Homo sapiens: one gene and its partners. The protein of the gene in region 2 purifies or fractionates together with the protein of the main gene of each other region. This does not show direct contact. Each region holds a gene or a part of one and is shown on either strand. Other genes may lie near its edges. The genes, in order: SENP8, TRMT5 and PSTPIP2.

Region 1 (3,655 bases), on a different chromosome or scaffold from region 2:
TACCTATAGCTGATGTGTTTATGACATAAACCTCAAATTCTTAGGAGTCAGATTCCCTAATAATAAAGGAATGAGCACAAGCTTATGCTTTAGCAGCTTAAATGTGTACAGGAGAGAAACATTTATTAAAGTAAATTTATTCATTTGGTTAAAATATATTTATTGGTGTCTTATGTGTCCCAATTTTGCCTGCCATAATCAGACTGAAAATTGAACCTGGTTACTATATAATGGATTACAGACATCATCCAAGAGTTAGTTTTTTTCTTTCTCTCTCTCTCTGTTTTTTCTTCTTCCCCTCCCCTCCCTCTCTCCCCTCTCCCCTTTCCCTCTCTCTTTCTTTGAAAACGTCTCACTCTGTTGCCCAGGATGGAGTGCAGTGGTGCAATCATAGCTCACTGCAGCCTTTAACTGATGGGCTCAAGTGATCCTCCCACCTTGGCCTTCCAAGTAGCTATATGCACTATACGTGCATACCACCATGTCTGGCTAATTAATATTTTTTTTTATAGAGGCAGGGTCTCACTATGTTGCCCAGGCTCATCCCAGAGTTTTCTATTGTCTTCACACTTCACATCCAATTGACAAGTCCTGTTGATTCTATAGCCTAAATGTTCTAAATCTGTCCAATGCTTTCCATCTTCACTACTATCACCTTAGTCAAATCTATCACCATTTCTTTCTTGACCTAGCCTAACAGGTCTCCTATTTCCACTACTGACTGTGCCAATAAATTCTCCATCAAAATAATTGTTTAAAAATTTAAATTAGGCCAGGTCTGTTCCCTGCTTAGGAGTCTCTAGTAGCTATCATACTCAGAAAAAAATGAAAATTCCCTACCCTAGTTTACAAAACCCTACATGAAAATGTGGCTTCAGCTATTTCTCCAACCTTATCTCCTATTATTTCCCTGCTTGCCCACTAAGACCCAGCCACAAAGACTTTCTTTTTACTCCTCAAATACACCAAGCTTTTTCCCTCCTGAGGGTGGTACTAGCTCTGCCTGGACCTTCTAGTAATTAGCTTCTTCTTTGGACAGATCTTAGTTTAAATGCCACTAAGTCACAGAGGTCTCAGGGCAGCCAAAACAAAGAGGCCACCAGTTACTATCACTCTAATTTCAATTCCTTGAATAGCACTGATTACTATGTGATAGTTTTTTAATTTATTTGTTTATTGGTTCATATTCTTTTTTCCTCCCCCTGCCTCTTCTCTTTCCCTCTCCAAAACAAGAATGTAAGCTCTATGAAAATAAGACGACGAGGGGCCTTGTCTGCCTTGTTTGCCATTTTAACCCCAGGACCTAAAACAGTGCTTACCAGGCAGGTACTCAATAAATAATTGTAGAATAAATGAATAAGTAATTGAGTATACAGCTCAACATAATATAAATCAAGTTCGGCAGAGAAATGTTTACATTTAGAGTCTGGGAAGTGAAAGCGCCTTTACTATCACTTCTAATCTAATTTCCTACTCCATGCAAGAATTCTTCATTTCTGCTCTGAAAGAGAAAGGTGCAGAACCTTGACTTAAAACTAGGGGTGTGGTATTGGAGCAGAAGTAGATAAATCAATAGCATAAAAAAATCATATGTAGATTAGAAATTTTAAATATGATGATGGAGTCTTTACAAATCAATGAGAGAGTCTGTTCTCATAGTGTAGTAGTAATCATGTTTGCCTGACAAATCAGGAGAAATTATGGATTATTCCAGTGTTTTCAGCGTGTTCACGTGTTCCACTGAACATTATGTTCCCATAGCAGTGCTGTCCAATAGCACTTCTTGTGACGGAAATTTTCCTATTTTTTGAGATGGAGTCTCACTCCGTCGCCCCGGCTGGAGTGTAGTGGCGCAATCTCGGCTCACTGCAACCTCTGCTGCCTGGGTTCAAGCGATTCTCCTGCTTCAGCCTCCCGAGTAGCTGGGATTACAGGCAACTGCCACTGTGCCTGGCTAATTTTTTGTAGTTTTTTAGTAGAGACAGGGTTTCACCAGCTTGGCCAGGCTGGTCTTGAATTCCTGACCTTGTGATCCACCCACCTCGGCCTCTCAGCGTGCTGGGATTACAGGCATCAGCCACTGTGCCTGGCCCGGAAATTTTCTTTTATCTGCAAAATGTTCAATACAGTAGCCACTAGCCCCTTGTGGCTATTGAGTTCTTGAAATATGGTCAGTGTGACTGAAGAACTGAGTAATTTTAATTAACTAAAATTTAAATAGCCACATGTGGCTAGTGCTAGTATACTGGACAGCTCAGTTCCACAGGCTTTCATAGGTATTTCCTGAAATACCTATGAAGTGAGATTACATGGTTAAAAAAAATAGCTCACACCTGTAATCCCAGCACTTTGGGAGGCTAAGGCAGGCAGATCACCTGAGGTCAGGAGCTTGAGACCCGCCTGGCCAATATGGCAAAACCCCATCTCTACTGAAAATACAAAACAAGTTGGATATGGTAGTGCATACTTGTAATCTCAGTTACTTGGGAGGTAGAGGCAGGAGAATTGCTTGAACCTGGGAGGCAGAGGTTGCAGTGAGCCGAGATCACCCCACTGCACTACAGCCTGGGCGACAGAGTGAGACTCCATCTCAAAAAAATAAATAAATAAAATAAATAAATAAATAAAAAAGAAAAAAGATTACATGGTTAATTAAATTAGGAAATGCTAACTCCTAATGCACACACACACACTAGAGGCTAACGAGAGTTTGGCGATAAAAAATTTTAACTTTTTTTCGTATGATCTTTTCCCAAACTTATTTAACCACGAAATAGTCTTTCTTTTTTTTGGAGGAATATCTATCAGTACTTTATTATCTGTATATTGAAGTATGGGATATGCTTGCTGGATTTTTTAATAAGTAGCATTGGCACAACTTGTTAATTATTTGATTAAAAAAGTAAAGAGTTTTACCTCATACCTTACATCAAATTATATTTTAGATAGAATACAAATTTAAATGTTAAAAAGTAAAAAAAAAATTGTTAGAAAATATTAGTTAATACACTTACATGACTAGTCAATAAACACATGAAAAGACACTGGACATCAGAGTAGTAATCAAATAAATGTAAGTTAAAATAAAATTTCATTTTTTTACCTGTCAAGTTAGCAAAGGTGAAGAAAACTAATAATAATTAGCATTGCTGAGAGATTATGGGAAATGAGTAAATGATGCCCCATTTTGATAGGACTGTCATACATGCAAGCTTTTTCAAGGGTAATTTGCCATTATATTGGAATTCTTAAGAAATTTATATATGTAGGTATTATACTTTAAGAAATTTAACTTAAGGGAGACATTAACAATGTGTGCAAAAATTCAACAAGATATTCACCATGGCAGTATTTGTAACAGAAAAACTGGAAACAATCTGGAGTTCAAAAAAGGACTGGTAAATTAAACAACAGGGTTTCCACACGATGGAATAGTTTTCAGCCATTAAATATAATATTGTCAATACAAATTTATTAAAAGAAAAATGTTCATAATATGCTTTGATATAAACATCTGTATATGATAAAAATATACAGAAAAATAATCAAGAACGATATCCATCAAGTGTAAATATCATTTTAAGAAATAGGATTAATACTTTTTTGCCTTTTTCCTTCTACCTTTTGATATTGTGCTTTAATTTTTCCCCCTTTT
Region 2 (3,755 bases):
CCTAGTATTTAACATAGCCCTGAAGGCCTAACAAGTCTTGTGTACCAAAAAGATCTCTCCTCAATGTAGCTGCCAAAGCATGTGATTCAAGTTTAATCTACACTGATGTATTGTTGTACACAAAAGCCTGGACCAGTATTTGGAACTTGCTATGACTAAAGAAGATATTTCAAAATGGCCCTCAAAAGAGGGTATGTAGCTCAAGATCTAGCTTAAAGTTAACATGATAAAATGTTCTGCCTCTGTAACTTGGCATTAAAAAAAATAATTTTTAAAGCTAAAATTAACAATTTGCAAATTCCCTTCAAATACATGAATATTACTATGACACACGTACCAATTAAATGTTTGAAAGGCAGCTGATGATCTCGAAGGTTTAGGTGTGCAATATGTCCAATCCTGCTAAACCCTGAAGTTACATCTTGACCTTCAGGAAGCACAGCTCTCAAGATTTCTTCTGACTTAAAGTGTTCATATGTTAGTTCCAAATTGTATTTAGAGATCTGTGGACTGACATTAAGCTGCTCTAAAACACTGAGTTCTGCTTTCTCAAAGGAATCATGAGTAAATATTTTATAGGGATCCAACATGATTAGTCTACTTTCTTTATCTTCCGGATCTTCAATCACACGTCTTATGCCTGGGCGCTGCAATGCTGCCCTTTTTAGGGATCGCATCAATTTACTGACTATTTCTTTCCTCACTTTAAGCACTGGAATGTTGACTGTCTTTTTAAAAGCTGTTCTATCAAGTTTTGTCATGCCTCGGACATCAGAAGGTGGTGAAAACAATTCAGTCTCTCTCTCATGTGTTTCTGTTTCTGGCATGGTTGAGAATCTTTTTCTTTGACCCAATAAGAAAATACCAGGTGCTTCCAAAAGCATCTGTGTCAGGGATGTCCAAGCTACTGGAATCAACGATTTTGATTCAGTTATGCTATGGCTTTCCAGTTTCAGAAATCTTCCTGAGAATCCAAATGGCCTCCATAAGATCCTTAAAAAAAAAAAAAAAAAATTCACACACGACAGCTTTTGAGAATAAAAATCTAAATTCTACTATCTCAAATAACGGGCTAAATGCTGACAAATAAAACGTTTAGTGATGTGTGGGAAGTATACTATCTTTTCCAGACTAGGATGACTTCTTCAGGAAGTCGTATTAGTGGTAGATAATAGTGGTATATATTAAATTTACACCTTCAACCCATCTGCTCCCAGTTCAGAGGGCTTAGTGATCCATTAGCCATACTCAATGATCCTCTTCACCCACAATTTTCTAGATAATACATTTGGGATTGGAAGACTGAAGTATGAGTTAAATGGTCATCTGTAAATGAAATAGTCATTATACATGACCATTACTAGTGGTGATATTTATTAGGATAGTCTCATGGGTGCTTATTGTGTCAGATACTGCGCTAAATGCTTTATGTACATTATGAATCTTGGGAGGTGTGCAGTATTGCACCCTCATTTTGTAAATAAGTAAACTAAAGCTCAGACGTAAGGTAACCCACCCAAAGTCTCCCAGCTGATAAGTGGCTAAACATGGATTAAAACCTAGTTTTGACTGACTTCGGTGCTTGTGTTCTTAATATATTGCTCTGTTGTTTGTTTTCGATGCTTTACTGCCACATGTCCTGCCTTTAACTAGAGGCTTCTGTATTTTGAGGACGAGAGCTTTGCTGATTGTTATATGCATAGTATCAGTTATTCACTGTCTTCTAAAATACCAAAGAATTTACTTGTAAGGGGAAAGGGCCCTGTCCCAGAATCCTGTAAAGCAACGAAGTCTAACTTCACCGTCAGAGATCAAATTGGTTCTAGCAGCTGACCAGCTGGGTGACCCTGGATAAATTACTATAAGTCTCGGTTTTCCCACCAGTAAAATGTGGCGAAAGGCTTTTGAAACATTCCTTACTATCCAGAACCTCGAAACTAAGCTCAGCACCTAGGCGGGTGGGTGACCTCGCGATGTTTCTGTGCCCAGGCAGCACATGGCAGAGAGCAGCCCTGGGCGGGCTGGTACCTCCCCTGGACCATTAGCCCCTAACGCGGCCGCCACCTCACCAAAGCACCATTCCAATTCCCCACGTCGCTCTGCAGCTGGATCCGCGAGCCGACCCCTCACCTCCCGCTCCGGTACCGATCGGATGTGGGTCGCGGGTGGATGGGCGGGTCTTCTATGACATCATCACTGTTCGCCGCGAAGAGGGCGCGCGTCATCAGATCAAGTCGACTCGCTCCTCTCCTTCCAGGCCCTGGTGAAGTACGGAATGCCGGAAGGGCCGGGCTCAAAGCTCCGCCTCTGGCGCGACCGACGACTGGAGCGCAGGGCAGGGGTAGAGGCTCGTAGATGGAACTGGTAGTCAGCTGGAGAGCAGCATGGAGGCGTCCTGGGGGAGCTTCAACGCTGAGCGGGGCTGGTATGTCTCTGTCCAGCAGCCTGAAGAAGCGGAGGCCGAAGAGTTGAGTCCGTTGCTAAGCAACGTAAGTGGGCTGTGTTCGCTTCCCCGCGCTGACGCCCTCCGGCTTCCCTCAAGTGCCTGCCAAATAAGACCCAGAAAAGGAGGACCGCACCGGGACAGGGGAGATGCTGGAGCCTGAACCCTGGGGGATGGGGTCTGAAGGCAGCCGCCGAGATTCAGATGAGATTGGCGCAGTTATGAACGTGATAGCAGCCTAGCATACTCTAGAAAGAAAAGATGAAAAGCGTCGGGTGGAAGAGATGCAGCGTTGAGTGGAAGCTGCGAACATGATGGGATGAGCGGCCCTAGGATTATGTACTCACTGCTGTTAGTTAGTATTTTTGTCACCTTATTTTCTCCACCAGTCTCGTGAGGTCTTTGCAAGAGTCACAGGATTTTCCTCTTCCGACTTAGTCATGGGGGGAGGGAAAATAATAAACATTTTAATACAGAAATTCTTAGCGGTAGAATGGAAGTGGCTTGGTAGTAAGTGCATAGCACGTTCCTGACCCTAAAGCCTGTGCAGTGGGCACTCCGCTTTTTAACTCGAGTCCTAGACACTGTTCCCAGGACTTTGTTCCCGGTGCTGTTTGTGGGGAGGGGGATGTTTTCAGGGATACTGCCAGAACAACGTGAATTGCTTCTGTTTATAATATTGTCATTGCAAGATATTCCTGACCATCCTTCCAGTTTGGTAGAACTAATTCATTAGATATATAAGTAGAGATTAGTTGTGCAGTCCTAGTAATTGAGGAGAAACAACTGCCCACAGCAGTCCCAGGTTGACTCAGCAATTCTTTAGTAATCACATGAGCTGAGGCCTTATCCCTCCTCTCTCTCCCCACTCCATTCCCATCCTATCTTCATCTCTTGCAGTCACAAGGTTAGTCATGGCCCTTCCTGAACTCTGCCTGTCTTGTGTACTGGTGGAAATCATTTTCCTAAGAAACCCTAGATTCCTGGAGCTGCAGTAGTGGGAGGTGGGAAGGAAAGGAAAGGAAATTAGTGTTGGTTAAGCAACGAGTGTGTCATACAAACCCTGGTGGTTTGCAGCTTTTTTCCATAATCTTTCATTTATGGAATTTCTTTACGAAATTTTAACTTCACCGTCCAAACATTTAACACTACTAAATTTGTGTGCTTACAGGAACTTCACAGACAGCGATCCCCAGGTGTTTCATTTGGTTTATCAGTGTTTAATTTGATGAATGCCATCATGGGAAGTGGCATCCTTGGCTTAGCTTATGTTTTGGCTAATACCGGTGTCTTTGGATTTAGGTGAGTCTTC
Region 3 (3,655 bases), on a different chromosome or scaffold from region 2:
GTGTGAATCAGGTGTAGTGGCACATGCCTGTAATTCCAGCTACTCAGGAGGCTGAGGTAGGAGAATCACTTGAGCCCAGGAATTCAAGGCCAGCCTGGGCAACATTGTGAGACCCCCCCATCTCAAAAAAAGTGTCTTTGTAATTGCTTGCTGAATATTTTGATAGTGGATGCTGTAAAATCTTCGTCACATAATTCCAACATCTCTGTTATCTAGATCTTGGCAGCTATTGATTGTCTTTCTTTTCATGGAGTTTCGTATCTTTCTGGTATGAAGAGTGATATTTGATTGATTTGGGGGAATTTTTGGTATTATGTTACAAGACTCTGGATTTTATTTAAGGCTTCTGTTTTAGCTAGCTTCCTCAGGACACCACTCCAGCAGGGGAAGGTGAGGCATCATCTCATTACTGTCATGTGAGTGTGAAAGTCCAGGTTTCCCCTCCTTGGTCTCCACTGACACCACAGAGTGTGTGTGACCCAGTTACTACTGGAAAGTGGTTAAAGTTCTCACTCTCCACTAGACCTCCTTAGACACCATCCCAGGAGGGAGAGGGTGTACATCATTATTTCCCGGTGCAGGTGGAAGTCAGGGTTCCCCACATAGCTCCCAATAACACTGTGTAGAGGAGGCTCTGTTACCTCCTGGTGGGAGTGAAAGTCCTGGTCCCCTATTTGTTCTCTGTTGCCACCTTGGCAGGGGAGTTGGGTGCTCTCTACAGCCTGGTGTGGTGGAAGTTTAGACTCTCCACTTGGCCTTTGCTGATGTGTGGAGGTGGGTCCCCAGGTTTTTTACGTGGTGTTTGGCTGCAGTAGAATGGTTATTTTCTAAAGTTTCTGTCCTGCTAGGCTGCCCCTTTTCTGGTCTTTTGGTTAGAGAGAACAGGTTTTTCTTGGAGCTTTTTATTTATTTTTTTTATTTTTTTAATTTTTGGTCTATGACCATTGGCATTTCTGGGATGCCTGCTTCTTTGGCACTCAGTCTGTGATAAATGAGGCAAAAAGAAAGCCCAGGGAACCCTTGTCAGGTTGTTCTTTGAGTCCAAGGTCACTAGCCAGTGTGCCTTCTTCTCTCCCCCTTTCAGAGTTTTTTTTTTTTTTTTTGAGACAGAGTTTCACTCTTGTTGCCCAGGCTGGAGTATGCAATAGTGCGATCTCGGCTCACCGCAACCTCCACCTCCTGGGTTCAAGCGATTCTCCTGCCTCAACTTCCCAAGTAGCTGGGATTACAGGTGCACACCACCACACCCAGCTAATTTTTTTTTTTTTTGTATTTTTAGTAGAGTCGCGGTTTTGCCATGTTGGCCAGGCTGGTCTCGAACTCCTGACCTCAGGTGATCCACCTGCCTCGGCCTCCCGAAGTGCTGGGATTACAGGTGTGAGCCACTATACCCAGCCAGAAAGTTATATTTTGATAAGCCTTTCTCTTTAATTATAAAAAATCTTGCCCCAGATTGTTTAAAATATAAAAGGTCTGGGAAAAATCATCTATCAACTAACACTATTTCTGTATTACACTGACATCATTCCCTATTTATCAATTGTTTTTGAGGGATTTCTGCATCAAGGAGAAAAAGAATGCAGCAGAACAGATTGCATATGCTATCAACACTGGTGACACTTCCCTATTACATCCTACTCGTAGAATATCATGATGATACTTCGGTGTCAAGATGGAGTCATATATGTTCTAATAACAGAGTTTGTTGTATCCAGAGTCAACAGATACATAAAAGCTAGAGAGAGATTTCTAGCAACTTGTCCAATCTCTGTCTTGCCAACATTTTTTAAATAAATTACTTAAAGGAAAAGTTTTTATAATTTTCAGATATCTTAAAACAGAAAGGGATCACTCAATAAAATAGGTAAGCAATCAAGATTCAAAATAGTAACAGGGTAAAATTGCAAATTCTATAAGATAAAGGGTATTGTACACTATATATGTTTTTGTATCTTTGCCTAAAATATTTGAACTGACTTGCTATATTTTCTCGGGTTACCAGAAAGATAACCCTGTTGCATTTCCACTATCTAGTGTCACTTTCAATCTTTCCAAGGCCTTAAAAAAAGAAAAACCTTATACACTGTTGGTGGGAGTATAAATTGGTTCAACCATTGTGGAAAGCAGTATGGAGATTCCTCAAAGAACTAAAAGCAGAACTACCATTTGACCCAGCAATCCCATTACTGGGTATACACCCAGAGGAATATAAAGCATTCTACCCTAAAGACACATGCACGTGAATGTTCATTGCAGCACTGTTCATAATAGCAAAGACACGGAATCAACCTAAATGCCAATCAATGACAGACTGGATAAAGAATATGTGGTACATATACACCATGGAATACTATGCAACCATAAAAAAGAATGAAATCATGTCTTTTGAGGAAACATGGATAGAACTGGAGGCTATCATCCTTAGCAAACTAATGCAGGAACAGAAAACCAAATACCACATGTTCTCACTTATAAGTGGGAGCTAAATGATAAGAACTTATGAATATAAAGAAGGAAATAACAGACACTGGGGTCTAATTGAGAGGGAGGGTGAGAGGAGGGAGAGGAGCAGAAAAGATAACTATTGGGTACTGAACTTAATCTCTGGGTAATGTAATAATATGTACAACAACAACAAAAAAGAAAACCCAAAGCATTTAAGGTTGTTTTCCCTAAAACACTGCACTAATAAATAATAACATTTTTGAAATGTTATTTGAGTAGGAATATGTTCATACACAGCACAGGATTTCAGAAAATGTCACCATTATCCCAAAAAAGACAATAAAATGTGACTCACATCCATGGTTTTCTTGAATTGTAAGCTCTTTTGTTTATGGATAGCATCCATTATGAGCTCTGTCTGTAAAGAGATCATAAACACTCTTAATAAAAACACAAATCATTATTAATAAAAACAGAAATCATTATCAATACCAGCTTATCTTGAGGGTTAAGTGTTCAAAATGATTACCCACATTTCACAATCTTCAGAGAAAAGAGACCAAACAATTTGCCTAAGCTCTTATTCCTAGCTAATAACGGGGCCCATCTTTGAACTTGTGCAGGCAAACACCAAAGCCTGAACTCTCAGACACAGTGGAGACTCACTGATCACCTTAGAGCAGTCTCTTCAGTAAAATCTGGAATCAAGGAACTTTGGTTTCAAAAAGGAATTTTAAAACTTTTGTTAAAGTGCCATTTATATTTTAAAAGAGGTCTTTATTCTATAAGTATACATCAGCACAGTTAAATTCGGTACTTGTAAACATTCATTTCTGCAGCCCATCAGTGACACATCCATGACCATCAGGGTGCCCGGGCAGTATGAAGGAAAAAAGAATTTGTAAGACAACTAAAAGAAGCTGTTCTGTTACTCTTTTATTCCATTTTTTTATTTTTTAAGACAGAGTCTCACTCTGTCACCCAGGCTGGAGTGCAGTGGCATGATCTCAGCTGACTACAACCTCTGCCTCCTGGGTTCAAGCAATTCTCGTGCCTCAGCCTCCAGAGTAGCTGGGATTACAAGCCTGCACCACCACACCTGGCTAATTTTTGCACTTTTAGTAGAGATGGGGTTTCACCTTGTTGGCCAGGCTGGTCTCAAACTCCTGACCTCAGGTGATCCACCCAGCTCGGCCTCCCAAAGTGCTGG

The links.
Region 1: the proteins of TRMT5 (region 2) and SENP8 fractionate together in Homo sapiens (co-fractionation; one large-scale study listed by BioGRID). This does not show direct contact.
Region 3: the proteins of TRMT5 (region 2) and PSTPIP2 fractionate together in Homo sapiens (co-fractionation; one large-scale study listed by BioGRID). This does not show direct contact.

What each region holds. Positions count from the first base shown.
Region 1 is NC_000015.10:72,124,779-72,128,433, reverse strand, and holds part of SENP8 (sentrin-specific protease 8), read right to left. Parts: intron 1-3,655. UniProt on the Homo sapiens protein: Protease that catalyzes two essential functions in the NEDD8 pathway: processing of full-length NEDD8 to its mature form and deconjugation of NEDD8 from targeted proteins such as cullins or p53.
Region 2 is NC_000014.9:60,978,894-60,982,648, forward strand, and holds the start of TRMT5 (tRNA (guanine(37)-N(1))-methyltransferase), read right to left. Parts: upstream 2,131-3,755; 5' UTR 2,081-2,130; coding exon 2,070-2,080; exon of another isoform or gene 2,043-2,069; coding exon of another isoform or gene 1,951-2,042; intron 994-1,950; coding exon 338-993; intron 1-337. Other genes in the region: SLC38A6 (solute carrier family 38 member 6), read left to right, coding at 2,385-2,489, 3,615-3,745. UniProt on the Homo sapiens protein: Involved in mitochondrial tRNA methylation. Specifically methylates the N1 position of guanosine-37 in various tRNAs. Methylation is not dependent on the nature of the nucleoside 5' of the target nucleoside.
Region 3 is NC_000018.10:46,002,669-46,006,323, forward strand, and holds part of PSTPIP2 (proline-serine-threonine phosphatase-interacting protein 2), read right to left. Parts: intron 2,864-3,655; coding exon 2,801-2,863; intron 1-2,800. UniProt on the Homo sapiens protein: Binds to F-actin. May be involved in regulation of the actin cytoskeleton.